6 linked regions of the Homo sapiens genome follow. The protein of the gene in region 1 purifies or fractionates together with the protein of each later gene. This does not show direct contact. Each region holds a gene or a part of one and is shown on either strand. Other genes may lie near its edges. The genes, in order: CAB39L, PLCB3, BCL7B, EPB41L1, PUS7 and ACOT7.

What was found.
Region 2: the proteins of CAB39L (region 1) and PLCB3 purify together in Homo sapiens (affinity purification with mass spectrometry; one large-scale study listed by BioGRID and IntAct). This does not show direct contact.
Region 3: the proteins of CAB39L (region 1) and BCL7B purify together in Homo sapiens (affinity purification with mass spectrometry; one large-scale study listed by BioGRID and IntAct). This does not show direct contact.
Region 4: the proteins of CAB39L (region 1) and EPB41L1 purify together in Homo sapiens (affinity purification with mass spectrometry; one large-scale study listed by BioGRID and IntAct). This does not show direct contact.
Region 5: the proteins of CAB39L (region 1) and PUS7 purify together in Homo sapiens (affinity purification with mass spectrometry; one large-scale study listed by BioGRID and IntAct). This does not show direct contact.
Region 6: the proteins of CAB39L (region 1) and ACOT7 purify together in Homo sapiens (affinity purification with mass spectrometry; 3 studies listed by BioGRID and IntAct, with this or other methods). This does not show direct contact.

Annotation. Positions count from the first base shown.
Region 1 is NC_000013.11:49,349,697-49,354,507, reverse strand, and holds part of CAB39L (calcium-binding protein 39-like), read left to right. Parts: intron 1-3,595; coding exon 3,596-3,764; intron 3,765-4,811. UniProt on the Homo sapiens protein: Component of a complex that binds and activates STK11/LKB1. In the complex, required to stabilize the interaction between CAB39/MO25 (CAB39/MO25alpha or CAB39L/MO25beta) and STK11/LKB1.
Region 2 is NC_000011.10:64,261,517-64,266,274, forward strand, and holds part of PLCB3 (1-phosphatidylinositol 4,5-bisphosphate phosphodiesterase beta-3), read left to right. Parts: intron 1-64; coding exon 65-149; intron 150-435; coding exon 436-560; intron 561-669; coding exon of another isoform or gene 670-743; exon of another isoform or gene 744-850; intron 851-890; coding exon 891-1,045; intron 1,046-1,130; coding exon 1,131-1,292; intron 1,293-1,981; coding exon 1,982-2,081; intron 2,082-2,174; coding exon 2,175-2,279; intron 2,280-2,504; coding exon 2,505-2,596; intron 2,597-3,434; coding exon 3,435-3,588; intron 3,589-3,675; coding exon 3,676-3,711; intron 3,712-3,793; coding exon 3,794-3,986; intron 3,987-4,369; coding exon 4,370-4,523; intron 4,524-4,609; coding exon 4,610-4,686; intron 4,687-4,758. UniProt on the Homo sapiens protein: Catalyzes the production of the second messenger molecules diacylglycerol (DAG) and inositol 1,4,5-trisphosphate (IP3).
Region 3 is NC_000007.14:73,543,298-73,548,108, reverse strand, and holds part of BCL7B (B-cell CLL/lymphoma 7 protein family member B), read left to right. Parts: intron 1-4,464; coding exon 4,465-4,561; intron 4,562-4,811. UniProt on the Homo sapiens protein: Positive regulator of apoptosis. Plays a role in the Wnt signaling pathway, negatively regulating the expression of Wnt signaling components CTNNB1 and HMGA1.
Region 4 is NC_000020.11:36,226,429-36,230,519, forward strand, and holds part of EPB41L1 (band 4.1-like protein 1), read left to right. Parts: intron 1-2,903; coding exon 2,904-2,912; 3' UTR 2,913-4,091. UniProt on the Homo sapiens protein: May function to confer stability and plasticity to neuronal membrane via multiple interactions, including the spectrin-actin-based cytoskeleton, integral membrane channels and membrane-associated guanylate kinases.
Region 5 is NC_000007.14:105,459,121-105,463,931, reverse strand, and holds part of PUS7 (pseudouridylate synthase 7 homolog), read left to right. Parts: intron 1-1,181; coding exon 1,182-1,311; intron 1,312-4,672; coding exon 4,673-4,764; intron 4,765-4,811. UniProt on the Homo sapiens protein: Pseudouridylate synthase that catalyzes pseudouridylation of RNAs.
Region 6 is NC_000001.11:6,383,160-6,387,970, reverse strand, and holds part of ACOT7 (cytosolic acyl coenzyme A thioester hydrolase), read left to right. Parts: intron 1-2,202; exon of another isoform or gene 2,203-2,304; coding exon of another isoform or gene 2,305-2,477; intron 2,478-4,811. UniProt on the Homo sapiens protein: Catalyzes the hydrolysis of acyl-CoAs into free fatty acids and coenzyme A (CoASH), regulating their respective intracellular levels.

The sequences.
Region 1 (4,811 bases):
ATTCTTTAACAGACCTAAGGATATTAATGTTAGTGGGATTTGAAACTTAACCTAAGCTTATCTTTTGGAGCACTTCTTTAAATAGTAAGCAATAACCTATCAAAAGTCAATATACTAGAGGGTAGTCAGGTAGAAATGATCTATGTGAATTATAAATCACTTAAAGAGTACTGAGGAGAATTAGAATTCCCTATATATCTCTGTATATCCCTATGTATTTCTGAATTTAAGAAGTTGTAATCTCAGAATGACAGATGTCAAACTGCTGGGATGAAATGACAAGTGTGCTGACCCAGAGGAGTCTTGGTTTTTTAAAAACATTCTTTTGATTCTCAAGAATAAACTGTCAGTGCATCACAGATGGTTTCAATAAGCTTCACGAAATGAAAGGAAAAAGAGAACTAATTATACCCAAAAGTTAGAGTGGAAACTTTTTATAGATGGTCTTAGTTTGGAAATTGAATTAAGAAATGAGAAAATGTTGGCCAGAGATGATGCATATTTTGTATACGTCAGAGTTTGACTCTCATTAGAGTACTCTAGTATTAAGACATTTCTTCAGTTTGAGGTTCATTAAATTCATTATATGCATGCTTCGTGAAAAACATTATAATAGGCACTCTTCGGAGACTGGGGTAGGGACAGGAGAAAGTAGCAATAAATGACATAGACACCAAATGGAGATGGGGATAGGGGAGGAGAGGAGAAGGTAACAGGATAAGTAAAACATATCCCCAACAATTAAATTGATTGTAATGAAGAAAATAGACCTATAGCAATTTACTGCAGTATAACATAATACAGAATGAAAAAAGTGTTAAAGAGAAATTACAGACAAGCTGTTATTTGAGTGTGAAGGGCAGAAAGAATAATCCTGAATTGTAGTGATTAGGAAAGGCTTCAAGGAGGAGATGGCATTTGAACTAAGCCTTGAGAGATGAGAAGCATCTGAGTTGTGGGAATGTAAGAAGGGCATTCCAATTGAGGGAATGAGGGGCTCCAGGGAAATAACGAATGTGATGGGAGATGAAACTGAAAAGTTAAGGTTAGGGCCAAATTACAAAAATCCACATATATCTTGCTGATCAATAAGTCTGGATTTTAATTGTCCTTCCCTTAGATTCTTTCTCTAGGCCAACAGCCTTTATTTTATACTCTCTTGAGTACTCTATCAATAAATGACAGTGCTTTTCTCCTTTACATTTCAGAACATATACCCCTCTTTACAACATCTTTAATAAAACCCCACCTGACAACTGTTCCTTGTGAGCCAATAGGCTGAGTTTCAGGTTTTTCTAATAAGAGAAATTGCTAGCACTATAAATTGGCATTCCTTATATTCTACAAAGAATCATGACTATCTGAATGTATCAGCATTTAATGTTACTATGAGTTATTCAGGGAATACTCAATATTTGTGAATATCATTCTGCATAAACAGGACAAAAATGAATAAATACCACCCTGGTATCTTTGTTTGCTGTTTCTTCTACTAATATTTGTAAATTTGATATTGGAAAGTAGTCTATTTCCTCAATTGAATCTTTATTCTTGAATCTGTCTTTCATGAAAATTCTATAATCTTATAAAGAGTAGTACATTACTTATTGTTCAACAAATGTTGTTACTAGTAGTTGATGAGTAATAAAATATCTTAAAGTTTTATAGTATCATAAAAGTTCCATAAAAACTAGTATTCAGTTGAAATGGTCAATGATATCTCTTTAAAAATATGGTCAGATTTTATTTTATTTTATTTTTATTTTTGGAGACAGAGTCTCGCTTAACTTTCCAGGGTCAAGCAATCTCCCACCTCAGCCTCCTGAGTAGCTGGGACTACAGGCGTGTGCCACCATGTCCAGCTAATTTTTTTAGTTTTTGTAAAGTCAGGGTCTCAGCTAAATTTTTTATTTTTTTATTTTTTGTAAAGTCAGCCATGTTGCCCAGGCTGGTCTCGAACTCCTGAGCATAAGCAGTCCATCCACCTCAGCCTCCCAAAGTGCTGGGAGTACAGGAGTGAGCAGTCACGCCCCACCAGATTTTTTTTTTTGGAGGGGGCCCTATATTCTGCTCACTTCCCAGTGTATCACAACTATATCTTTCTTTGTTCTATTCTTCCTATATTTACCACACAATTGTCAACTGTATTATTTCAATACAGGGCTTGTTGTACTTGGGCTAAGCATTATTCATTTTCTTGAAATCTTATCACACACTGGAATATATCTTAAACTTACTTAGAGACTGAATTTGACTTTGAGAGATTGTTGTTGTATTAGAAATGGAACCAATCTGGTATGCCAGTCCTGAATTGTTTCCCACAGTAGACGTTTCGTTTGTCTAGCATATTTTTTGCTGTGAGCCATGATTCCACTTAGGATTTAAGTGAGTCAATCAGTCCACAGCTATGTATTAGCCACCTACTGCATGCAAATCATATATTTATATAGGTCTCTCCTATCTTTTTCCTAAAGTCCAGATAAGTGTATCATACTGCCAAGGAGACCTTTCTACTTAGATATCAGCCATCTCAAAACTAATGTGGTCAACCACAAACTCTTAATTTCTTTACTAACTTGTTCCTCTACTAGTTTATTCATCTTAATAAATAGCACCACCATCTACCCAGTGATTCAAGCCAAAAACATAGGAATCATTCGTGAATTCTCAGTTTCCAAATTTATTCCCTCACCCAACTCCAGCTACATCATCAGCAAGTCTTGTTGACTCTTCCTCCGAACAGTATCCACCACCTGCCCACAGTCCTCTGTTCTGCTCCTGCCACCCCAGGCCAAGCCCCCGTTCCCTCTCCTGGGTTCTGCTCCTGTTCTTATATGTCTCCTGCTGTTTTACAGACATTCTCAACAAGAAGCCAGAGTGATCTTTTTAAAGCATAAGTTAGTCTTGTCAATTTCTTGCTTTAAACTCTCCAAAGGCTTCCCATTACACTTAAAATAAAACCAACTGCTTACCTTGGCTGACAAAGCTGTATCTGATCTGGGATCTGGCCCCTGCCCTTCTCTCCACCCCTGCCTCATTTCACACCACTCACGGTTCTTCCTCTACAATCGAATCACACAGGCTTTATTCCTCCTTCTCTGTTTCGCCAAGCCTGTTCTTGCCATGGAGCCTTTGAACAGTTTTTTCCCTTTGCCTGGAACATTTTGCCTTTTCCTTGAGTCTAAAGTAAAGTAACTTAAGTAGTCACTCACACACACACACACACACACACACACACACACACAATTTAGTCACCTTTATAATGTGGCGTATTTTATTGTCAACAGTTTTTACAGCCCTTCTCAGTGTATGAAATTATCTTTTCATTGTTTACATTCTGCCTCATCCCCCCACCCCCAGCTGTCACCATGTTCATATTTGAGTATATCTAAGTGTTTCAGAATACACTCAAATTCCAGAATACGTCTGCAATAGTGCCAGGCACATAGTAGATCTTCAGTGGATATTGAATGAATCGTGACAAATGGTATGTATGCTTCCATTAATAGCAGTATTGAAATGGTTCTTTTGATGCCATTAATATTATTTTAATAGGATAACAGAGTTCTCTATTTCTCTCTTGTTTACGCTTTAGATATGAAGCCCCACAGATTGCCTTACGTTGTGGGATTATGCTGAGAGAATGTATTCGACATGAACCACTTGCCAAAATCATCCTCTTTTCTAATCAATTCAGAGATTTCTTTAAGTACGTGGAGTTGTCAACATTTGATATTGCTTCAGATGCCTTTGCTACTTTCAAGGTAATTTTTTTTTTCCAACTCAGCTAGGTCAATTTATAGTCACTTGGCCCCTGAAGAGGCAATTTAATTTTAAAAAGCAAGAAATTTTACTTCTTAGGCCTCAGTGTAGCCAACCATGTATGATGTGGATCATAAGAGGAATCTGTAAATAGAATGCAGTCTATGAGGCCAGTCTGTCCTATTGCAGGAAAACAACTCAAAATATTTGTCACAAGCTCAAATGGAGTGAATTCCAGTATATACAGTTACGTGGGAAAGGAATATGTAGTGCTCTGTGTGTGGCATGCTGTCATTTATGTTAAAAACAGATTAAAGGGCATAAGCTTCCACTTAAGGTACATATGCACTGAATACCTCTGCAAGGATGCATAGGAAACAGCAACAGTGATTAATTCTGGGGAAAGGAACTAGGTAGTGAAGGGAGATGGAGAATTACATCTTTGAATATGAAGGACATCATGTTATTTTATGAATGAAATTTTTAAATGTCCACATGGTGAAACAAAATAGTAAGAAATTATATTGTCGTTGTTTCATAATCATCTATAGTTTGATCATGTATTATCTACTTTGTCACTATGTAGGAAATCGTAGGATGCAATATATTCACATTGTTAGGCAACCAACTACCAGAACTTTTTTATTTTGAAAAATTCAAACTCTACCTCTATACTTATTAAATAATAACTCCCCATTTCCTCCTCCCTCCAGCCCCTGACAATCATTTTACTTTTGGTTTCTGTATTTTATCATCAAAAAAATGTTCAGAGAATATATCAGAAAAGAGTGCAGCTAATTTGCAGACAAACATACCAAAACTTAGTCATCTAATGAGTGATGTTACATTCGAGATTTCTATTTTAGAAAACCAGTTACTTAGGCTTATGATCCTGCTATTATTTAACATATTTTGAAGTTGGTATCAATGTGTATTACATGCTCATTTTTCAATAATGGCAAACTTTTATCATTCAAGGGCAGATAAAAGTTTTGGAAACAAAAGCCTATTTGACATTCCGGTTAGTGTATAAAGTGGGTGATCAAGTT
Region 2 (4,758 bases), on another chromosome or scaffold:
GGCATGGGAGCTTGCCCAGCTCAGCCCTGCCAGGTCTGACGCCCTTTCTTGGCTCACCCCTAAGAGAGGAACAAATGCTTCGAGATGTCGTCCTTTGTGGAGACCAAGGCCATGGAGCAACTGACCAAGAGCCCCATGGAGTTTGTGGAGTATCCTTTGAAGGTGCTGTGGGCGGGCAGGCCAGGGTGGGGCGCTCGGAGGCCGGCTCCGGTGTTCTGTCCCCACATATGCCACCTGCACAGGGTGCTGGCCCTCCGGCGGCCCTCCTGCACCCTGGCCTGGGGCTTGGGCAGATCCAGGCAGTCTCAGGGGGCATGGCTAGGCTAAGAAACAGAGGCCGGGTGTGGGGGTCACAGGAGCACCTGGCTGAGGCCGGAGGTGGAGGCTGATGGGGTGGGCCCTGGCACCTGTGTGGCCCCTGACCACCAATCTCAGATACAACAAGCAGCAGCTCAGCCGCATCTACCCCAAGGGCACCCGCGTGGACTCCTCCAACTACATGCCCCAGCTCTTCTGGAACGTAGGGTGCCAGCTTGTTGCGCTCAACTTCCAGACCCTCGGTGAGCCCTGGCCCCCTCCATCTTGACCCCGACCCTCAGTCTTACTGACTTCTGACCCACGATCCTGCTGGTCTTGCCTGAATGGACCTCTGACCCTGTCTCATCCCAGATCCCAGGGGAACCCAGCTCCCGACTCACCCCGCCTCCTGCCCTTGGCTGATACCAGACCCCTCCCCTGTCTGATCTGTCCTGGATCCGGACCCTGATGCCATTTGAGCCCGCCCCTGACCCTGGACCTTGGATGCCATCTGACCTGATGATCTCCCATTCCCCACATGGCACCGTCCTGCCTGATCCCTGCCCCTGCTCGACGTGCCCGTGGCACCCCAGATGTGGCGATGCAGCTCAACGCGGGCGTTTTTGAGTACAACGGGCGCAGCGGGTACCTGCTCAAGCCGGAGTTCATGCGGCGGCCGGACAAGTCCTTCGACCCCTTCACTGAGGTCATCGTGGATGGCATCGTGGCCAATGCCTTGCGGGTCAAGGTGGGGCTTGCGGGCGGCTCAGGCCAGGGGTGTCCTGGGGGCAGGACTCTCAGCATCCGCCTCACCCTCCTTGGCCCACCCCCAGGTGATCTCAGGGCAGTTCCTGTCCGACAGGAAGGTGGGCATCTACGTGGAGGTGGACATGTTTGGCCTCCCTGTTGATACGCGGCGCAAGTACCGCACCCGGACCTCTCAGGGGAACTCGTTCAACCCCGTGTGGGACGAAGAGCCCTTCGACTTCCCCAAGGTGAGCCTGGCCCCTGCACCCGCCCAGGCACAGGCAGATCCAGCCCAGACCGCCCCGACTCTCAGGTGGGAGAACAGGAACCAGGCACACCGTTGGCGACTGGGGATCAGAAAGTGGGGGGTGCCATGGGTCCCCCAGGACCTGCCTGTCCGAGCGTCAGTCTCCCTGCCCTCCTTAGGGTAAGAGACCAGGGTGAGAAGGTGAGATGGGGGTTGGGGGGTGTCAGCTAGACGTCTTGTGTCCCCTGCGAGGAGTGGACACAGCCTACCCTGTCTCCGAGGCAGGAGCTGAGGTCACAACCCCAAGCTCATATCCGCTCTTCAGCACCCCGCACGGCCCTGCATGGACGCGGCCTCTGCTCCCAGCCTGGGCATGTGTGTTCTTGGTTTCCTGCTCATGACTCACTCCCGTTTCTAAACTGGCAATGACCAGAACTGTCTGTGGGGGCCCTGGAGGGGCCTGGCTGCCTGTCATCTTGCCTCAGGGTCCTGATGGCTGCAGTCATCCATTAGGCCAGGACATGGAAGTGGGGTCAGCCATCAGCTTAGTGGCAATGGTGACTGATGGTCAGTAGGTCAGCTCGTCTGAAGGTCTGCTTTGTTAAGCTTTGATGGCTGTGGTTAGCTGTGGCCTGGTAGCCACAGTGGCCCAGGGTCAGCCCTGTGGCTCAGCTCCAGTCTGGCCCACAGGTGGTGCTGCCCACGCTGGCTTCACTTCGCATTGCAGCCTTTGAGGAGGGGGGTAAATTCGTAGGGCACCGGATCCTGCCTGTCTCTGCCATCCGCTCCGGTGAGGCCTTGGTGGGCTCTGGGCAGCACAGCGGGCAGTGGGTAGGGCCCCCACCTGGCCCAGCAACCCAACGTTGCCTTCCTGACCACCCAGGATACCACTACGTCTGCCTGCGGAACGAGGCCAACCAACCGCTGTGCCTGCCGGCCCTGCTCATCTACACCGAAGCCTCGGACTACATTCCTGACGACCACCAGGGTGAGCTGGGGGTGGGCGGGGCCTGCCTGGCCAGGGAGTGTGAGGGACAAGGGCCACCCCCAGGGCCTGGGAGTGGCCGAGCTGGATGGCCCCGACTGAGTAGGGAACTGAGTAGGGAACAGATCTGAGGACAAGCTCTGGAATTCCTCATTGAGACCAGAGGTGGCGGGTGGGGGTGGCCTGGGGGCTCTGTCTCTGAGACCTTGGCCTTCTGCCTCCCCCCAGACTATGCGGAGGCCCTGATCAACCCCATTAAGCACGTCAGCCTGATGGACCAGAGGGCCCGGCAGCTGGCCGCCCTCATTGGGGAGAGTGAGGTGAGCCGGGGCAGGGCAGGGCTCAGGCTCACTGTGACCCAGGGGGCCGCTGGACATGACTGCTGTGGCCACATGAGGAGGGGGCTTCTGGTCTCTCTAGCGCAGTAGGCTTGGCAGCCCTGGGATTTTGAGGAGATGAAAACCACCCATTTGCATTCAGGAGGCCTTCAGGTCACACCTGGGCTGGAATTCCTCCAGCTCCATGTAGGCTTGGAGTGGGGGTACAGGGGTCTCAGCCACTTCATCAGGGCAGTGCGAAGCCACAGAAGCTGTTCAGACGTGGTGTCCTGGGAGTCATGAGGAGGGCAGTGGCTTCCGTGGGGAGGGGTCAGGCACGGAGGTTCACCTGCGCTTCCAGATCCAGTCCCCCCAGGGCCTGCGGCAGGCGGGCGGGGAGAGATGACTGCAATTAGGGCTGCCTGGAGCTGTTAGCGGAGAGGCTGGTGCCCACTCTGCGGTTGAGTCCTCTGTTGATTTAATCAGGAGCTCAGCAGCAAGGAAAATGAGCGACTGTAGGCAAGGCTGGGGGACACAGGCAGGGGAGGAGAGGAGGCTTGGGGCTGGGCCAGGCCTTTCCAGAACAATCTGGGAGTTACTGAGCACATGCAGTGGGCTGGCATTATGTTATCTTCCCCACAGCCCATGTGGAAAAGGGGTTTAGAAAGGCTTGATTTATAGCTCTTCTCATGCAGACAGCCTCCTGTTACAGAGCAGTCCAGCAGTGGCTTGGACTAAGGGAGGCTGACAGGGGTGCTAGGGGACCCAGGAGGTGGTAGAGGACAGAAGGGTCTGGAGGGAACAGCATTTCTGAAAAGAGCATTCTCCTTTCTCCCTATAGGCTCAGGCTGGCCAAGAGACGTGCCAGGACACCCAGTCTCAGCAGCTGGGGTCTCAGCCGTCCTCAAACCCCACCCCCAGCCCACTGGATGCCTCCCCCCGCCGGCCCCCTGGCCCCACCACCTCCCCTGCCAGCACCTCCCTCAGCAGCCCAGGTAAGGAGTGGCCTGGGTCGGGGGTGGGCTGCAGGGAGGCACCCCCCACCCTGTCCTCCAGCTCCTCACAGGGCCTCTGCTCCCCAGGGCAGCGTGATGATCTCATCGCCAGCATCCTCTCAGGTAGGGGGCGGGGTACCTGGAGGCAGGGGGCTGCCTTGCAGGTTCCCCCACCCCCCGCCCACCTTTGCTCTGCCGCTCCCAGAGGTGGCCCCCACCCCGCTGGATGAGCTCCGAGGTCACAAGGCTCTGGTCAAGCTCCGGAGCCGGCAAGAGCGAGACCTGCGGGAGCTGCGCAAGAAGCATCAGCGGAAGGCAGTCACCCTCACCCGCCGCCTGCTGGATGGCCTGGCTCAGGCACAGGCTGAGGGCAGGTGCCGGCTGCGGCCAGGTGCCCTGTGAGTGTCTGGGCCGCCTGTGTGCTATGTGTGCTGGGTGTGCTGATGTGAACATGGGGGTCGGTGGGCATGGAGAGATGGCAAGAGCTGCTCCTTGACCCCCAGGGAGGAGGGTTCAGTGCAAGGATGGAGGAGGCTTTCCACACCAGGCGTCCCTGTGTCCCCCAGGGAGTGACATCTCTTTTGAAGTCCATGAGGAGCATGTTGCCCAAACAGGCTCCCATCACTTGGGTGGAGCTAACAGGCCTCCTGGTTTGCATAACAGACCTGGCCCCATGGGATGGTGTCTGCCATCGCTTGCCAGGATGTGCCCCCCTACACACCCTCCCCATCCCAGTCCATGTGACGGGCCCAGGCATCACCCAGAGGGGTTCTCCTCGCAGAGGTGGGGCCGCTGATGTGGAGGACACGAAGGAGGGGGAGGACGAGGCAAAGCGGTATCAGGAGTTCCAGAACAGACAGGTGCAGAGCCTGCTGGAGCTGCGGGAGGCCCAGGTGGACGCAGAGGCCCAGCGGAGGCTGGAACACCTGAGACAGGTAGGGGGCCTGCAGTGGCCAGGGAAAGCCTGCTGGATAGACCCGTCGTCAGCCCGGCATCACCTGTCAGCTCCCTGTGTCCACAGGCTCTGCAGCGGCTCAGGGAGGTCGTCCTTGATGCAAACACAACTCAGTTCAAGAGGCTGAAAGAGATGAACGAGAGGTGAAAGCCGAGGATTGTCTATGGGAAGGGCTGGGGACTTCTAGTACCAGAAGGAGGGCAGAGTCTGTGCTT
Region 3 (4,811 bases), on another chromosome or scaffold:
ACAGGGTGTCACTCTGAGGCTGGAGTGCAGTGACGTAATCTTGGCTCACTGCAGCCTCCGCCTCCTGGGTGCAAGCAGTTCTGGTGCCTAGCCTCCCAGTAGCTGAAACTACAGGTGCATGCTGCCACACCCAGCCTAATTTTTGTATTTTTTGGTAGAGACGGGGTTTCATGATGTTGGCCAGGCTGGTGTTGAACTCCTGACCTCAAGTGATTTGCCCATCTAGGCCTCCCAAAGTGCTGGGGTAACAGGTGTGAACCACTGTGCTCAGCCTCATGCACCGACTTCTTACTGTTTTCTCCTACATTTGTTTTTCTTTTTGCTAGAATACATCCTTCAAGAGTTTTGTCAAAGAGAGCTTCTGTGGGGAAAACTTTCTGAAAATATCTTTGTTTCACTTTCATGTTGAAAATTGATGATTTTACCTGTATATGAAATTCTAGGTTCAAAATTATTTTCTTTCAGCACTTTGAAGCTATTACTGAATTGTACATCCAGTGTCGCTGTTAAGAAATGTGATGTTATTCCCATGCTTGAGTCTTTGTAGGTGATCTACTTGGCTTCCTGGAAACTTTAGCATTTCTTCTATATTTGATCTCCTAGGAATTCCCTCAAAATATCCTGTAATATTTCTTTTCCTTTTTTTTTGAGACTGTCTCACTCCATAGCTCATGCTGGAGTACAGTGGTGCAATGATGGTTCACTGTAGCCTCAAATTCCTGAGCTCAAGAAATAGTTATGTCTCCACCTCCCAAGTAACGGGGACTACAGGCACGTGCCACCACGCCTGGCAAACTTTTAAATTATTTGTAGAGACAGGGTCTTGCTGTATTTCCCAGGCTGGTCTCAAACTCCTGGGCTCAAGCGATCCTTCTGTCTTGGCCTCCCAAAGTGCTGGGATCACAGGTGTGAGCCACTGCACCCACGCAGCTGCTTGCTTGCTTGCTTTTTTTTTTGAGATGGAGTTTTGCTCTTGTTGCCCAGGCTGGAGTGCAATGGCACAATCTCAGCTCACCGCAACCTCCACCTACCAGGTTCAAGTGATTCTTCTGCCTCAGCCTCGCGAGTAGCGCTTGCCTCACCATGCCCAGCTACTTTTGTATTTTTAGTAGAGATGGGGTTTCTCCGTGTTGTCAGGCTGGTCTTGAACTCCTGACCTTAGGTGATCCGCCCGCCTTGGCCTCCCAAAGTGCTGGGATTACAGGCGTGAGCCACCACGCCTGGCCAACTGCTTTATTTCTTAACTTTTCTCTCATTCATTTCATTTCTTGTCTTTCCTGGTGCATTCTGAGTTTCTCAACGCAGTTTTTGCTCATTAATCTTTTATTTAGCTGTATGTATTTCAATTAACCTCATTCACTTAATTTTTATTTGAGCAATTGTATTTTTCATAACAAATTGCCTCAATTGGTTCTTCCTCAAAACGACTTTTTTTTTTTTTGAGACAGAGTCTCGCTGTGTCACCCAGGCTGGAGTGCAGTGGCATGATCTCATCTCACTGCAGCCTCCACTTTGCAGGTTCAAATGATTCTACTGCCTCAGCCTCCTGAGTAGCTGGGATTACAGGCATGTGCCACCATGCCCAGCTAATTTTTTTCTATTTTTAGTAGAGACAGGTTTCACCATATTGGCTAGGCTGGTCTCGAACTCCTGACCTCAAGTGATCTGCCTACCTTGGCCTCCCAAAAAGTGCTGTGATTACAGGCTGTGAGTCACTGCCCCTGGCTAAAACAACTTTTCAATATTATCCTTATCTTTCTGAGCAAATCCATGTTTAATTTCAGTTATTCTGCTCCTTCTGGTACAGACTGTTCTGTTTATCAGGGTGCCTGTGTTCCTCCAATCTCTGGTGAGTTTTATGCGTGCACTCACCTTTTATTCCCTTGGGACTCTCAATTGCATTGGCTGGTAATGTGTAACTACGAGGAGGACGGAAGCCTGATCCGTAGTTTTTCTTTCTTTTTTTTTTTTTTTTTTGAGATGGAGTCTCGCTCTGTCACCCAGGCTCGAGTGCAGTGGCACGATCTTGGCTCACTGCAAGCTCTGCCTCCTGGGTTCACGCCATTCTCCTGCCTCAGCCTCCCAAGTAGCTGGGACTACAGGCACCCGCCACCACGCTCAGCTAATTTTTTTGTATTTTTAGTGGAGGCGGGTGAAAACCGTGTTAGCCAGGATGGTCTCAATCTCCTGACCTCGTGATCGGCCCACCTCGGCCTCCCACAGTGCTGGGATTACAGGCGTGAGCCACCGCGCCCGGCCAGTTTTCCTTTCTGTAAATGAATTTAGGAGGTTGAGGTTAGCCTCAGGGTTCAGCCTCTCCCTTTTGCTCTCTGCTGTCCTCTCTGGCTCCAGGGAACCTCCTAGCACCAACTGTATGGACTCTGCCTTTATCTGAGAGCAGCCATCCCAAGAAGTTCTAGGATGCCAAACTCATGGAGTTGATGGGGCGTGGTTCTGGAGCAACTGTTTATTCCCCCATCCAGCCTGGCTCTGGCCATTACCCACAGGGGTCAAAGGTCAAGCAGTTAAATCTCTTGGGCATTGTGTATAGACAGGAGTAGATGCTGCTAGAAAACCCCCTTTCCTTGGCCGAGTGCGATGGCTCACGCCTGTAATCCCAGCACTTTGGGAGGCTGAGGCGGGCGGATTGAGACCATCCTGGAGCCAGGAGATCGAGACCATCCTGGCTAACATGGTGAAACCCCATCTCTACTAAAAAATACAAAAAATTAGCTGGGCATGGTAGTGGGCGCCTGTAGTCCCAGCTACTCGGGAGGCTGAGGCAAGAGAATGGCGTGAACCTGGGAGGTGGAGCTTGCAGTGAGCCGAGATTGTGCCATGGCACTCCAGCCTGGGTGACAGAGCAAGACTCTGTCTCAAAAAACAAACAAAAAATTGAGTTATTAACAAAAATTACGTTACTAATATAATGCATCTACCGGAAATGTATAAAAAGTGTGAACTGGTAAATTTGAGGCTACTCAGATTTAAACTTTTGGCTTTTGGGATGCTCTCATTTTCATATGCTTGGATTTACTCTGGGCTTTTTTTTTTTTGAGTTAGGGTCTAACTGTGTTGCCCAGGTTGGAGTGCACAGTCATAGCTCACTGCAGCCTCAAACTTTCAGGCTCAAGCGATCCTCCCACCTCAGCCTTCTCAGTAGCTGGGACCACCAGCCTATGCCACCATACATGGCTCATTTTTTATTTTTTTGTAGAGATGGGGTCTTACTATGTTGCCCAGGCTGGTCTCAAACTCCTGGGCTCAAGGGATCCTCCCACCTCCGCCTCCTCAAGTGCTGGGATTACAGGCATGAGCCACTGTGCCTGGCCCTTGGGCTTTCTTGTTGCAAGCTGGTGCTTACCTGCCCACTGTGGTTGCCCTGCACTTATAACCTACATCTTTCTTGAAACAAATGTTATAGGTAAAAATAAACATGGGGTGATCATTTTGTTTTTTGGGTTTTTTTGTTTGTTTCTTTTTGAGATGGAGTTTCGCTCTTTCGCCCAGGCTGTTATGAAGTGGCAGAATCTTGGCTCACTGCAACTTCCACCCCCCAGGTTCAAGCGATTCTCCTGTCTCAGCCTCCAGAGTAGCTGGGATTACAGGCACATGCCACCATGCCAGGCTCATTTTTGTATTTTTATTTATTTATTTATTTATTTATTTTATTTTTTGTTTTATTTTATGTTTTTTTAGATGGAGTCTCGCACTGTAGCCCAGGCTGGAGTGCAGTAGTGCCATCTTGGTTCACTGCAACCTCCACCTCAAGCAATTCTCCTGCCTCAGCCTCCCAAGTAGCTGGGATTACAGGCACATGCCACCACACTCGGCTGATTTTTGTATTTTTAGTAGAGATAGGGTTTCACAATGTTGGCCAGGCTGATCTTGAACTCCTGACCTCAGGTGATCCATGCGTCTTGGCCTCCCAAAGTGCTGGGATTACAGGCGTGAACCAGTGCGCCCGGCTGGGGTGGTCGTTTTGAATGGATGAGGATGACGGATCAGGAATAGAGCCAGCCTGGGCCCATTTGTCCTGTCACTGTCTGTGTTACATGAGGTTCCTTCTTCTCTCACTTTTTCCCCACTCTGCTACTGAAACAGGAATCTTTCTCAAATGAGTGTTTTGTATTTCTTGCCCATTCGTATAGAGAAGGGTTGCCTGGCGCAATTTGATCAGGGCAGGAGAGGGATACTATGGGATGTTCTAGTCGAAGTGTATGTATCTGCCTGTTGCTTATGATTCACAGTATTCCTGCTGGAAGGGTTCATTTTTCTGAGGCTTGAGGAGAAGTTGCTTGTCCAGGATTCTGTTCTTCCTTGGGTCCTTGGATTCTCACGCTGCTGTCGTTTTTCCTGTTCAGTCCTAATCCAGACCTCTGTGGTCTGTCACATAGCACCCTCCTCCCTCTCTGTGAGTCTCCTGCTTGGCTCTGTCATATTCCTCTTTTTTTCCTTTTCTAGAAAGAAAAGTCAAAATCGAACAGTTCAGCAGCCCGAGAACCTAATGGCTTTCCTTCTGATGCCTCAGCCAATTCCTCTCTCCTTCTTGAATTCCAGGGTGAGTTGCATCTCTGTGTCTTCCTTGCAGGAGAATGAAAACTTGGATGAATGCATTAATAAGAAGAATTGGCCAGGTGCAGTGACTCACACCTGTAACCTCAGCACTTTGGGAGTCTGAGGCGGGCAGATCACCTGAGGTCAGGAGTTCAAGACGAGCCTGGCCAATATGGTGAAACCCAGTCTCTACTAAAAATACAAAAAGTTAGCTGAGCGTGGTGGCGCGTGCCTGTAATCCCAGCTACTCGGGG
Region 4 (4,091 bases), on another chromosome or scaffold:
CATTTTACAAATGAGGAAACTGAGGGTCAGAGATGTTAAGTGGCTTGCTCACAGTCATGAAGCTGTGAACATGATGGATTGATTAGAGAGTGAAACCCAATCTGTTAGACTCCAAAACCCAATGGTCTTGACCTTTTCACCACACCCACTTTTCATAACGTCTGTCTCCTAGGGCTACCAAGATCATCCATGCAGCATGGTAGTTAGCACACTGCCTACCACATCGCGAGTGCTTAATAAAAGCTCATTATGACTACTATTACCATTAACTTGAAATAGGCTAACAAAATGCTGCACGCAGGGACTGTGCTGTGCTGTAATAAACCAAGAAGAATAAATCATAACACTGTATTGTTTAGATGTCTTTGGTACTTCTGAAGTGTCTATGGGCTTACGAAGACATCCCACATACCCAGAATAATGATTACACTGACTTATAGGACAGCCACTTCATTAATTGATGCACAAACTTAAAGTGCAGCCTGTTACTGTAAGGAAAAACCAAACCAAACCAAACCAAAACCAATGCCCAGTTAGGATGTAGTAATTTTGCTACTGAGTAATATTCTTTGAGTAGTATTCTTTCTACTCAATTTTGACCAGGGGCCAGGCACAGTGGCTCACACTTGTAATCCCAGCACTTTGGGAGGCTGAAGCAGGAGGATTACTTGAGCCCAGGGGTTCAAGACCAGCCTGGCCATCATAATGAGACCTTCGTTTCTATAAAAAATGTAAAAGATTAACTGGGTGTGGTGGCTGGCACCTGTAGTCCCAGCTACTTGGGAAGTTGAAGCGGGAGGATTGCTTGAGTCCAGGAGGTCCAGGCTGCAATGAGCTATGATCGCGCCACTGCACTCCAGCCTGGCAATAGAGCAAGACCCTGTAAAAAACAAAAAACAAAAAACGAAACGAAGGAAGGAAGGAATAGATGGATACAACTAGGTTTTGGAGCTAGAAACACCTTGGTAGCTGTGTGCCCAGAGGAACCTCTCTGACCTCAGTTTCCTCATCTGCAAAATGTCATTAATGTATACATTGGAGTTGCTGTAATAACTAAACAACACCTGTGATATACTGGATCTGTGTCTTGCCTACAGAAGGGGCTCAGCAAGGTGAACCTGCTTCCTTGTCCCTCTGAGGTTTTTCCATGTTTAGAGGTTGATGAGAGTACTGAGAAAGTCAGATCGTAATTCTCCACCACCAGCCTGGTGCCTGAGGCCCTGTCTCCATGAGGGTGTTTGTCTTACTGGTCTTCATCTTCTGTTCCTTCTGCAAATCCTCCAGAAACATCTGTCCCTGCTTCAGTTAACTCTGTCTTCCTTCTTAAAGTTCTTCCTTCTTGAAGTTCTTGCTATGAGCGTGGAAAGTCACTCATGTCACACAGAACCTTTTCCCTTCTCTCCCTGCAACCTTGCAGGTCAGACGTCTGGTTTCTGCTCCATCTTCTCCCACTGGCCCACCTCCTTCAGAGAGGACCTGTCTCCCAAACACCACCAGCAAGAGGGCAGCACTTGCCTAGCTTCCTAACCTTCCAAAATTTAATGGGAAAAAATTGACCTGTTCCAAAACAGGAACCTTGGGTTTTAGTCTTGGTTTTGCCAACTTACTAAGCCTGAAGCCTCTGGGCCTCGGTTTTCCTATGTGTCAAATGAGCCAAGAAAGATCCATTTTCTGTGATTCCGTTAGCACTCGACTGCATGCAAGTAGCAGAAATGATGTTTCATCCATTAAATGGTTTTGAGTAGTTGCTATGTGCCAGGCACAGTGTTGAACACTGGAAAGACAAGAGTTAAAAGATAGCCCTTACCCTCAAGGAGATCAGAGTAGTGTGTGGTTAAATTAACAACAGCAACAATCATCATAATAAGAACAGCCAGTATTTATTCAGCACTTACTATATGCTGGGCCCTTGCTTCAGTTCCTCCCTATAATGGGAGGCAGAACCTATTTTACGGAGGAAGCAATTGAGGCTTAAAGAAGTTAAGAAACTTGCCAGGCACTGTGGCGTGCACCTGTAATCCCAGCTACTTGGGAGGCTGAGGCAGAAGGATCACTTGCAGCCAGGAATTCAAGGCTGTAATGTGCATTGATTGTGCCTGTGAATAGCTATTGCACTCCAGCCTGAGCAACATAGTAAGACTCGTCTGTTAAAAACTGTTTAAAGTAAAGGAAGTTAAGAAACTCACCCAAGATTACAGAGCTAGCAGGCCCATAGAGTGGGATTTGAACTCAGGGAGTCTGATTTCAGAGCCTGCTCCTTTAAACACTGAGTTTTGGAGCCAAACCTGGAATCCAGACTTCATTTCTTTATTTAAACACTGCTGTCTGTGGTTTAATCTCCAGGACACAGCAAGCCCACGGACAACAGAAAGGAAAACCAAATGAAAAAAGAACATCTGCAATCGTGACTAAACATTTCTTAGAGCTGACAAGATAGGAAGAAAAAGTAAAATGATGATGATCTTAGCTTCTCGGTGTTAAAGGACATTTTAACACATTGTCAGGCCAAAGTAAAAGATTACCACCTCCCTGGAAACAAGCGAGCAAACACACATGGGCTCTGGAATCCAACAGATGTGGGTTCGGTTCTCTGCTGCCACACACAAGCTGCGTGGCCTTGGAGTGCAATAGCTACTCACAGGCATGATGATTACACATTACAGCCTTGAGTTTCTCACCTCAAGAGATCCTTCCACCTCAGCCTCCCAAGTAGCTGGGATTACAGGTGCAAGTCACTCTACCTTGCTGAGTCACAATAAAGGGCATATGGTAAAGGGTAGCAAAAACAACCTCTTGCCATGTATTTTAAAACAAGTGACAGAAGTTACTAATTTTTCTTGTCCTCTTCCTTCCTTTCCCCCCACTCCCCACCCCCCATTCTACCCCATGCCTCTGGCTTCCAGGAATCCTGACCTCTGTGAAGAGATCCTGGCATTTCTGGTCCAACCCAAGCCAGAGAACCATTAAGAAGGGGCCTTCATTCTGGATTCTCCGACGCAACACTGACGTCCCAGCTGCGACGTACTGTCACTGATGAGAGACTGGGAAGGGAAAAGCATATATATATAGATATATAGAGATATAGATATATATACAGGAAACACCGCATCCTTGCACTGCTGCTGGGGCTGGCAGAGCAGTTGGCTGACAGCAACAACCGACATCTGAACACCTACATTTCCTTTGCAGACAAATTGAAGAACTGGTGGGATTTTTTTCAAGAAAAAAAATTATATAATAACTATAATCCCTTGCTCACCCCTTTCCCCCGCCAAATAAGAAACGCAAGCCAGACCACGATGATTGTAGAAGTCCCTCCCGCCCTGGTTCTGCACGTTACAGTTAGCAGACGAGCAATTCCATTTGTTCTTCTCCAGCATCTCTAAGGCCCACTTGAATGCAAAGGAAAACACTTGCACAGCAAAGCAAGAGAAGTCACAGCAGCAAGACACGCACAGTCAACCATTTTCCGAGAAAAAAAGAAAATTCCCCACTTGGAAAGAAAGAGGAGGAACACTGGATTCTTACTTTCTGGATCTTGACACTGGGCTGCAAAACCTACCTTCCTCTCTCCCGCCTCCCCTCACCCTCAACTCTCAATGTCTTGCTGTCATTTTCTGTCTCGGCTCCCTCCTCCCCCTTCCCCCTTCCCCCACCCCACACCCTTCACCCTCTGTGTCCTGGTCCTTCTGAGGGCCACTGCAGATGACTCTCCTTTGAAATGAGAAAAAGAAAAGAAAGCAAGAACAGAAAACGAAGCCACAGGAAGGGAAGTAGACATTGTATGCTTATGGTTTCTCATTATGAAGGTGCAGCTTGTAGGAGGTTTGTACGGATGTGCTTTGAAGTTATGTATATTACATATAACAGGAAAAAATATTAAAATAAACAGTGCTGGTAAGTATGAAGCTGACATTCTAAAATTATAATTATCTGACTGTGATTGATGTATCCTGAGGTTCCTAGATCTCACTGAACTGGCCCAGCTAAGGAGACCTGGACTCTGGGTGTGGGTTGGCTCACAGTAGGGGCTGACGGGTTCAGTGTAGTAATACTGTGTGTGGTGTTTGTAATTGGTTGATTGGTGGGGA
Region 5 (4,811 bases), on another chromosome or scaffold:
ACAAAGAAATTTGCTTGTTATATTTGCAAATTGTGCAAAATAGTTAGTATTAATTATATGAAAAATACATATTTAAGAATTGCATAATATTCTATTGCAGTATTAATTTTAAAAACACAATTTCAATGTATTTGCATTTGTCCATCCATTAATTTATCAAATATGTATGACACCTCATATTCAATGTCTTATATTAGTTACTGAATGAGTAGAAGGCTAGCAAAAGTTGTAATAGAGGGGCAAGTTTGCAATAAATAATTTAGTAAGATGTTAAAAAAAAAAAAAAGAACTGCAGAAGGTATTTAATAGGAATAAATGTAAATTCCCACATTTATGCCCAGTGATCAAATGCCGATAGAAAAGGCCCAGTTTGATAGTAGTTTGTATAAAAAGCTTAAAATATCTGGAGTTATTGTTGTATGTGAGCCTGTTACCCTGGGGCAGATAAAAGGTTTGGTGGGAAATACAGAAATGTTAAAGGAGGGACAGCTAAGGGAAGCATTGTTTGGTCTAGAGAAGATATGGCTGAAAGATCCAGTACTTATGACTATATGTGGAAGAAGACAGTTAATCCACTGTGTTCCAAAGCGTCAACAGAAGTTAGAAGAAAATGGATTTCAGCTTGGAATAGGAAGAACTTTCTAATAATTGCATGCCTCACAAAGAAGTATTTCCCCATTAATGACTGTGCAAGCAAAGGCTGGAAAACTGTCTCTCTTGAGTGCTATAAAAAAGACTCTACATCAGGTGCGCGGGTGAGCCAGATGGTTTTCCAAGGTCTCTTATTTTTATACATTTATTTATAACTGCCTCTTCCAGAGAGAGTTTGAAGCCTCTGTATATGCTGTCTTCCAACTCTCAGCCCATATAAAATGCAGTTTAGCAACTTTGGATGAAATGGCCTTTTGTAGTTGGCTTGGGAACCTTACACCACAGGTACTATGACTGGTTGCAAAAATAACTGAAAAATTGGCCAAACCAAAGCTCAGTACACCCTGTAGTCCTAGTTACTAAGTCACTAAATTTTGATTCCAGGGAACAGATTTTGGATTATAAATTAAGGTGACTAATTTTATTAGGGCAGTCTAACTGAACTTACATTGTTACTCTCTTTATAATCTAGTTCAGGATAACTTGACTGACAAGCTGCATTTCAACTAACTTTTTGTATTTTATATTAGTTCAAGAAGCCTACAGGGAAATGCTCACAGCTGACAATCTTGATATTGACAACATGAGACACAAAATTCGAGATTATTCCTTGTCAGGGGCCTACCGAAAGATCATTATTCGTCCTCAGAATGTTAGCTGGTGAGTAATCATCTAGAATGAGATAGAACTGAATTACCATATAAGTTGTAAGCTTTTGCTTCACTTTATATAGAGTCATGTACTGCACAAGAATTTTCAGTCAGTGACAGATTGCTTATATGATGGTGGTATCATAAGATTATAACACCATATTTTTACTTACCTTTTGTTTTTTTTTTGGTTTTTTTTTGAGACGGAGTTTCACTAGTCACCCAGGCTGGAGCACAATAGCATGATCTCGGCTCACTGCAACTTCTGCCTCCCAGGTTCAAGCGATTCTCCTGTCTCAGCTTCCAGAGTAGCTAGGATTACAGGCACCTGCCACCACACCTGGATAATTTTTGTATTTTTAGTAGAGGCAGGGTTTCACCATATTGGCCAGGCTGGTGTCAAACTCCTGACTTCAGGTGATCCTCCTGCCCCGGCCTCCCAAAGCGCTGGGATTACAGGCACGAGCCACCACACCTGGCCTTACCTTTTTTCTTTTCTTTTTTCTCTTTTATCTTCTTTTCTTTTCCTTTTCTTTTTCTTTTCCTTTTCTATCTTTTTCTTTTCTTTCTTTTCTTTTTTTTTCTTAATAGAGGCAGGTTCTTTCTGTCACCCAGGCTGGAATGCAGTGGCATAATCATGGCTTCCTGCAGCCTCAAGCTCCTCTGCTCAAGCAATCCTCCCACCTCGGCCTCCCAAAGTATTGGGATTACGGGCATGAGCCACCACATCCAGCCTGTGCCTTTTCTATGTTTAGATGCACAAGTACTTAAACCATTGTGTTACAGCAGCCTCCAGTATTCAGTACAGTAACATGCTGTATAGGTTTGTAGCCTAGGAGCAATAGGCTATAGTCTGTAACCAAGGCGTGTAGTAGGCTATACCATCTGTGTTTGTGTAAGTACATTCTGTGATGTTTACACGGTGATGAAATGCCTGACAAGGGTTAGAACATGTCCCTCTTGTTAAGCAGTGCATGACTGTACTTTTTCAGTGCTTACAACCTAGCATCTAAGTGTTTCATAAGTGTTAGTTATTATTGTTATTACTACTATTGTTACCACTACTGCTACTACTTTGTATTTTTCAAATCATCAAGAAGTAAATGAAGCTAAGCCGGGCACAGTGTCTCATAAGTAAGCCCGGAGACTCCAGAGGCTGAAGCGGGAGGATTGCTTGAGGTCAGGAGTTTGAGACAAGCCTGGGCAATATAGTGAGACCCTGTCTCTAAAAAAAGAAAAGAAATAAAGAAGCTGTTTTGAATATAAACAGTTATGGGAAGTGAGTTCATTTACATTTTATTGGCATCACTGAATTATTGAAGAAATGTGTAGAGTGAACTTTTTTCCTATTTCTAAAAACTTAGATTTGCTTACAGAGCTATCTCTGAGCAAATTACCTTACTTAGAATTAGCTGTGAGTTCCAAACACCGCTCTGGTTGTTTTAATATCATGTTTCTAGAGAGGAAAATATACTTATGTTAGTTCGTTTAAAAATACTTTATTGGAAGCCCAAGGTGGGAGGATCACTTGAGCCTAGGAGCTTGAGACCTGCCTCCGCAACATAGCAAGACCATCTCTACAAAAAATTACAAAAATTAGCCTGGTGTGATGGTGCACATCTGTAGTCCCAGCTGTTTGGGAGGCCAATGTGGGAGGATTGCTTGAGCCTGGAAGGTCGAGGCTGCAGTAAGCTGTGATCACGCCACTGCCCTCCAGCCTGGGTGACAAAACGAAACCCTGTCTCAAAAACAAATTTTTTTTTTTTTTTTTTTTTTTGAGACGGAGTCTCGCTCTGTCGCCCAGGCTGGAGTGCAGTGGCGCGATCTCGGCTCACTGCAAGCTCCGCCTCCCGGGTTCGCGCCATTCTCCTGCCTCAGCCTCCCGAGTAGCTGGGACTACAGGCGCCCGCTACCACGTCCGGCTAATTTTTTGTATTTTTAGTAGAGACGGGGTTTCACCTTGTTAGCCAGGATGGTCTCGATCTCCTGACCTCGTGATCCGCCCGCCTCGGCCTCCCAAAGTGCTGGGATTACAGGCGTGAGCCACCGCGCCCGGCCTCAAAAACAAATTTTAATACTCAGTATTATCTAAAGCTTTATTTGATAATTTTAAAATGAAATCCTGAACTAGTTGCCTATTTCCAGGAAATTATTTTATTCCCTATTTCCTTCTCTTCTCCATCTCTCTTACCTCCTCCTCTCTGGAGTATAGGCAAGAGGTCCACATGGTTGGACTTTGTCTTCCCCACTCCAGAGAACTGTTCCTTCTCAGTAACAAGCTGTTGTTGGTTGTGGCACCCAGTCTGGAGAAAATGTAAATGCCGTAAGTAATTTGATCACAGCTGTGCAAAGTGAAGTTTACTGACTCTCAACTTCATTTAAAAAGAATTGTCGGCTGGGCACGGTGGCTCACGCCTGTAATCCCAGCACTTTGGGAGGCCGAGGCGGGCAGATCACGAGCTCAGGAGATCGAGACCATCCTGGCTAACACGGTGAAACGCCATCTCTACTAAAAATACAAAAAATTAGCCGGGCATGGTGGCGGGCGCCTGTAGTCCCAGCTACTCGGGAGGCTGAGGCAGGAGAATGGTGTGAACCCGGGAGGCGGAGCTTGCAGTGAGCCAAGATCACGCCACTACACTCCAGCCTGGGCGACAGAGCGAGACTCCGTCTAAGAAAAAAAGATTTGTCAGTTGTACATTTTTAAAATTTTAATTATTAATGTGAAGAAATGGGGTTTCACCATGTTACCCACGCTGGTCTTGAACTCCTGGGCTTAGTCATCCCACCTCGGCCGCCCAAAGTGTTGGGATTAGAGGCATGAGCCACCATGCCTGGCCCCAGTTGTGCATTTTTAAATAACTAATAGAATATAATTGGATTGAGCCTATTATATTCAGGCACAGTGGCTCACGTTATAATCCCAGCAGTTGGGGAGACTGTGGCGGGTGGATCACCTGAGGTCAGGAGTTTGAGACCTCCCTGGCCAACATAGTGAAACCCCATCTCTACTAAAAATACAAAAATTAGCCAGGCATGGTGGCAGACACCTATAGTCCCAGCTACTTGTGAGACTGAGGCAGGAGAATTGATTGAACCCAGGAGGCAGAGGTTGCAGTGAGCCAAGATCACACCACTGCACTCCAGCCTAGGTGACAGAGTTGAGACTCCATCTCAAAAAAAAAAAAAAATTATATATATAAGCAAAACTTAGGTATAAAATCTGGCCCTGCTATATTATTCAAGATTCCTAACTATAATTATTTACAGTAAACTTACTTGTTTTTCTTGCTAAATAAATGATGATGAGTGGCTTAGTACCTTTTATGAAAGTTCACATTCACACTTATCTTTATTCATATGTTTTGAAGGGAAGTCGTTGCATATGATGATCCCAAAATTCCACTTTTCAACACAGATGTGGACAACCTAGAAGGGAAGACACCACCAGTTTTTGCTTCTGGTAAGTTTACTCAGTCATCAGCTCTGTGTTGACTTTGAAATGTTTTG
Region 6 (4,811 bases), on another chromosome or scaffold:
AAAACTCCGTCTCAAAAAAAAAGAAAAAAAAAAAAACAAAGAACCTGATTTACAGAAGCCACACTCAGAGCTTGTATTCTGGAGCATTCCGCAAAATGATTTACAGTGCTGGCTCTCTTGCTGCTGGGATGTGTGGACCCTGGGTGAAGATGCAGTCTTTGTAACCCAGAGAGCCTGTGCGTGGGGAGGCCTTTGTCTACCCACTGTCCAACCTCACGCTGTAAGTGGGCCACTTAGCCTGGCATTGCCCTGGAATTGGCACCTGCAGCTAGCTGGCTCCCCAGTTCTGGTCAGACCAGAAGTGGCTTTCTCCTGTGTGACCCACCTGGCCTGTGTAGCCTGCACCAGGGGGTGACCCCATAGGCTGTCTTGCCATCCCACCCCTTGGCCTCTCACTCTCAGAGCCCTCCTGGGGAGGGGGATCAAGGATGTGCCTCCCCATCCTTGGACCCCTGCATGGGAATAACTGGGGAAGTCTGTTACAAATATGGGTTTTCTGCATGTGAACAGTACTTCAGCAGAGAGTCAACAAGATGAAGATTGAGGAGATAATGGGGAAACTTGAATAGTCCCTTGATAATGATTTTAAGGAATCACTGCTTTTTTTTTTAAGGTAGGATAATTGTTTTGTAGTTTGCTTTTTTAAACCAGCTTTATTGAGATAGATTTAGAATGCATACACAAGAATATTTGAAACGTACAGTTTGCTGAGTTTTGATGAGTGTGCACACTGAGTAGTGGCGGGCCCAGTTGTGATGTCGAATATTTCCAAACTCCCAAAATTCCCCTACTGTTGGCCCCTGGCAAAAAGATCTGCTTTCACTCACTCGCTGTGCCTCTTCTAGAATTTCGTGTCGATGGAACCGGATCGAGCTCAGTGCTGGGCCTCGCTCCTGTGTCCCCGTAGCCCTGTATTACCCTGTTCCCTGCACACTGCAGTTTCTCTTCACCAGGCCACAGAGACTTGGGATCTTGTGAATGAAGTTCACAAATGCAGATTTCAATTCATTTAGGACAGAAACGTGAAGTCACTTGCTATTTAATGATATTAGGAATTTGGATGATATTTTAGATGAGATCTTTGTTTTGTGGTTTTTATTTTTATTTGAGACAGGGTCTCGCTTAGTTGGCCAGGCAACTAAGTGGTGCAGTGGTGCAATCATGGTTCTCTGCAGCCCCAACCTTCTGGGCTCAAGGGATTCTCCCACCTCAGCCTCTCGAGTAGCTGGGACTACGAGTGCACGCCTCTGTGCCTGGCTAATGTTAAAAAGATTTTTTGTAGAGACATGATCTCACTTTGTTGCCGAGGCAGGTCTTGAACTCCTGGGCTCAAGTGATCTTCCCACCTCGGCCTCCCAAAGTGCTGGAATTGTGGGCATGAGTCACCATACCCCTCCTTTAGGTTTTTCACAAGGAGCTTTTATCTTTGAGAGGAAATGCAGACATATTTACGATGTCGTACTGGGAAATCCGGGATTTGCTGCAGAATAACCTGGCATGGGGAGCAGGTGGGAGCAGAGACCAGAGGTGCCCTGAGCTGACTGTTTTGGGGCTGCTTGATGGGGACATAGGGGTTCACTCCCTCCTCCCTCTACTCTTGTAAGCATTTGATGTTTACCACAATGAAGAATAAAAAGAAAACCAGGCTCCTGAGCCTCCACCCCAGAGCTACTGCCTCTAACTCCAGGGGCGGGGAAGGTCAGGGAGGGGTAGGCCCAGGAATCTGCATTTTCCTCGGCCCTCCTGGAGCTTGAGGGCCACTGTCAGAGGAGGGCCAGGCACCTGCCGTGTTGTGCGGTGTGTTGGCCTTCCTCGGCTTCCCCGCAGCCTTCCAGCTCTCCCGGTGCCTGTGAGCCAAGACCTCTCTGCCCAGGTGGAACTCCGCCCAGGTGGAACTCATTCTTCTACTTGCCTGAGGGCCAGCCTGAGTGGTGCGAGGTTTAAGGTCCTGGAGGTGGGAACCCTTATGAGTGTTGCTTGTGGCCCCACCCAGTTCATCCTCTCCCGCAGAGGGGTGGTGGCCCTGTCCTGTTTCCCTGTCTGTGAGTTCAGGCCGAGTCATGGATTCCTTGCATCACTGGTCTTTTGTAGAGAACATCCTGTGATCCAGTTCCGGAAGCCGAGGAGGCGGCTTGCCGGGGGCTGGTGGGGGAGGGGCGGTCCTAGGAGGAGCAGGAGCCTGGTGCTTTCTATCAGGGAGGGATCACACCGGCTCACTGCTGAGCCGGCCAGGCAGACACAGGCTTGGGCTCTGCTGGGCATCATACTTGTCACTGGGTAAACAGTTTGCCCACTTACCGCAGGATGAAGCTGCTTGCCAGGGCTCTCCGGCTCTGTGAGTTTGGGAGGCAGGCATCTTCCAGGAGGCTGGTGGCTGGCCAGGGATGTGTGGGGCCCCGGCGAGGGTGCTGCGCTCCCGTCCAGGTGGTTGGGCCCAGGGCTGATCTCCCACCCTGTGGAGCCTGCATTACTGGAAGGTAGGATGACTGGGAATATTTTGTGCCCATGGTGTCTCACTTGCGACGCCGACTGGGCAGCCAGGGCCTTGGGCCGCATAACTTGGAGGAGTTTTGGGGAGGGTAGTAGGGTCGGGTGTTGGATGAGCTGTGTGTTTTGCTGGATTGAAAGTGCCCACTTAAGTGGCCACCCTCAGTGGAGACCTGGCATGTTCTTCCCCTAGGGACGAGCGGAACACCCGGGCTTTGTTGGAGGAGGTGACCTGGCAACCCTGGGCTGTGGGAATCTGGGCCTCTGCAGATCAAGGCTCCTGCAAGCCAGCAGCTGTGCTGGCTCACAGCTGGCAGCTGGCATCCGTGCCCTGCTTTGTCCCTAGGCTGGATGTTGAGCTGTGATTTTAGACCAGAAGGTTGGTGCAGGGCCAGAGGGAGCTGTTCCTGCACGATTGGCTGATCCTAACAGTGCAGTGTTGAGCTGCTTACAGATGGCTTTTGCATACTTTATTTCTCCTAAACTTTACAGAAACTCTGTTGAGTGGGCATACATACCTCCCCCTTTGTGCCAGCTTTATTGGGTTATAGTTCACATGCCATACAATTCATTCACTAATGTGTACAAGCTAGTAGATTTCAGTTTTATGTTCACAGAGCTGTGGGATCATGACCTCCATCAATTTTGAAAGGGGTGGTAGGAGGATTTTTTGTTCTCCTGACATGGAGCTCCCCAAGCCCTTGGGACCTTTGTAGTCCTAAGAGTGTCTAGTATGCTAATGAGAGAACTGGTGGCTGGGGGCCCTAGATATAGCTTCAGGATGGGAGCTGGTCTCCAGAAAGGCCAAGGGAGGATTAGCGGGTTAGCGCTTTCAACCTTACCTTCCTATACCGCAGAAGGTAGTGCCAGACTTTACTTGAATTGTAGGACACCCACCTAGTGTCGGAGAGTTGGAGAAGTGGGGTTGAAAGAGACACCCATGTTTGTTATTAAAAGCATGAGTAAAAACAGCTCGCCTAGGAATATAATTTTTGGGTCATATGGTAATTTTGTGGTTATTCTCTTGAGGAATTACCAGACTGTTTCCAAAGTGGCTGCACCATTTCACATTCCCACCAGCAGTGTAAAAAGGATTCAATTTCCCCATATCCTTGTCAGCACTTGTTATTATCCATCTTTTGAATTCTAGCCATGCTAGTAGATGTGCAGTGGTATCTCACTGTGGCTTTGATCTACATTTCCCTAATGAGAGAAGATGATACTGAGCATCTTCTCATGTGCTTATTGACCACTGTGTATTTTTAGAGAGCTGTCTAGTCAGGTCTTTCCTGTATTTTCCAATTGGTGTAATTGTCTTTTTGTTGTTGAGTGATGAGAGCTCTTTATATATTCTAGATGCAAGTCCCTTCTCAGATAAAATTTTTTAATTAAGAAAATTTTCCAATTCAAAAAAGTTGTCAGCCTGGGCAACATAGCAAGATCTGATCTCTATTAAAGATTAAAAAATTAGCCAGATGTTGGCTGGGCGTGGTGGCTCACACCTGTAATCCCAGCACTTTGGGAGGCCGAGGCGGGCGGATCACGAGGTCAGGGGATCGAGACCATTCTAGCTAACACAGGGAAACCCCATCTTTACCAAAAATACAAAAAATTAGCCGAGTGTGGTGGCGGGCGCCTGTAGTCCCAGCTACTTGGGATGCTGAGGCAGGAGAATGGCTTGAACCCGGGAGGCGGAGCTTACAGTGAGCCAAGATCGTGCCACTGCACTCCAGCCTGGGCCACGGAGCAAGACTCCGTCTCAAAAGAAAAAAAAATTAGCCAGATGCAGGGTAGGTGGGGTGTGCCTGTAGTCTCAACCACTCAGGAGATTGAGGCAGGAAGATTGCTTGAACCCAGGAAGTTGAGGCTGTAGTGAGCTTATTGCACCACTGCAATCCAGCCTGGACAACAGATCAAGACTCTTGTCTCTCAAAAAAAAAAAAACTGTGTTAAAATACACATAATATATAATTTACCGTTAAAAAAATCTGCCATCAGGCCGGGCGCGGTGACTCACGCCTGTAATCCCAGAACTTTGGGAGGCTGAGGCGGATGGATCACGAGGTCAGGAGATCGAGACCATCCTGGCTAACAAGGTGAAACCCCGTCTCTACTAAAAATACAAAAAATTAGCCAGGCGTCATGGTGGGCGCCTGTAGTCTCAGCTACTTGGGAGGCTGAGGCAGGAGAATGGCATGAACCCGGGAGGCGGAGCTTGCAGTGAGCTGAGATTGCGCCACTACACTCCAGCCTGGGCAACAGAGCAAGACTCCGTCTCAAAAAAAAAAAAAAAATCTGCCATCTTAGCCGGGCATGGTGGCTCA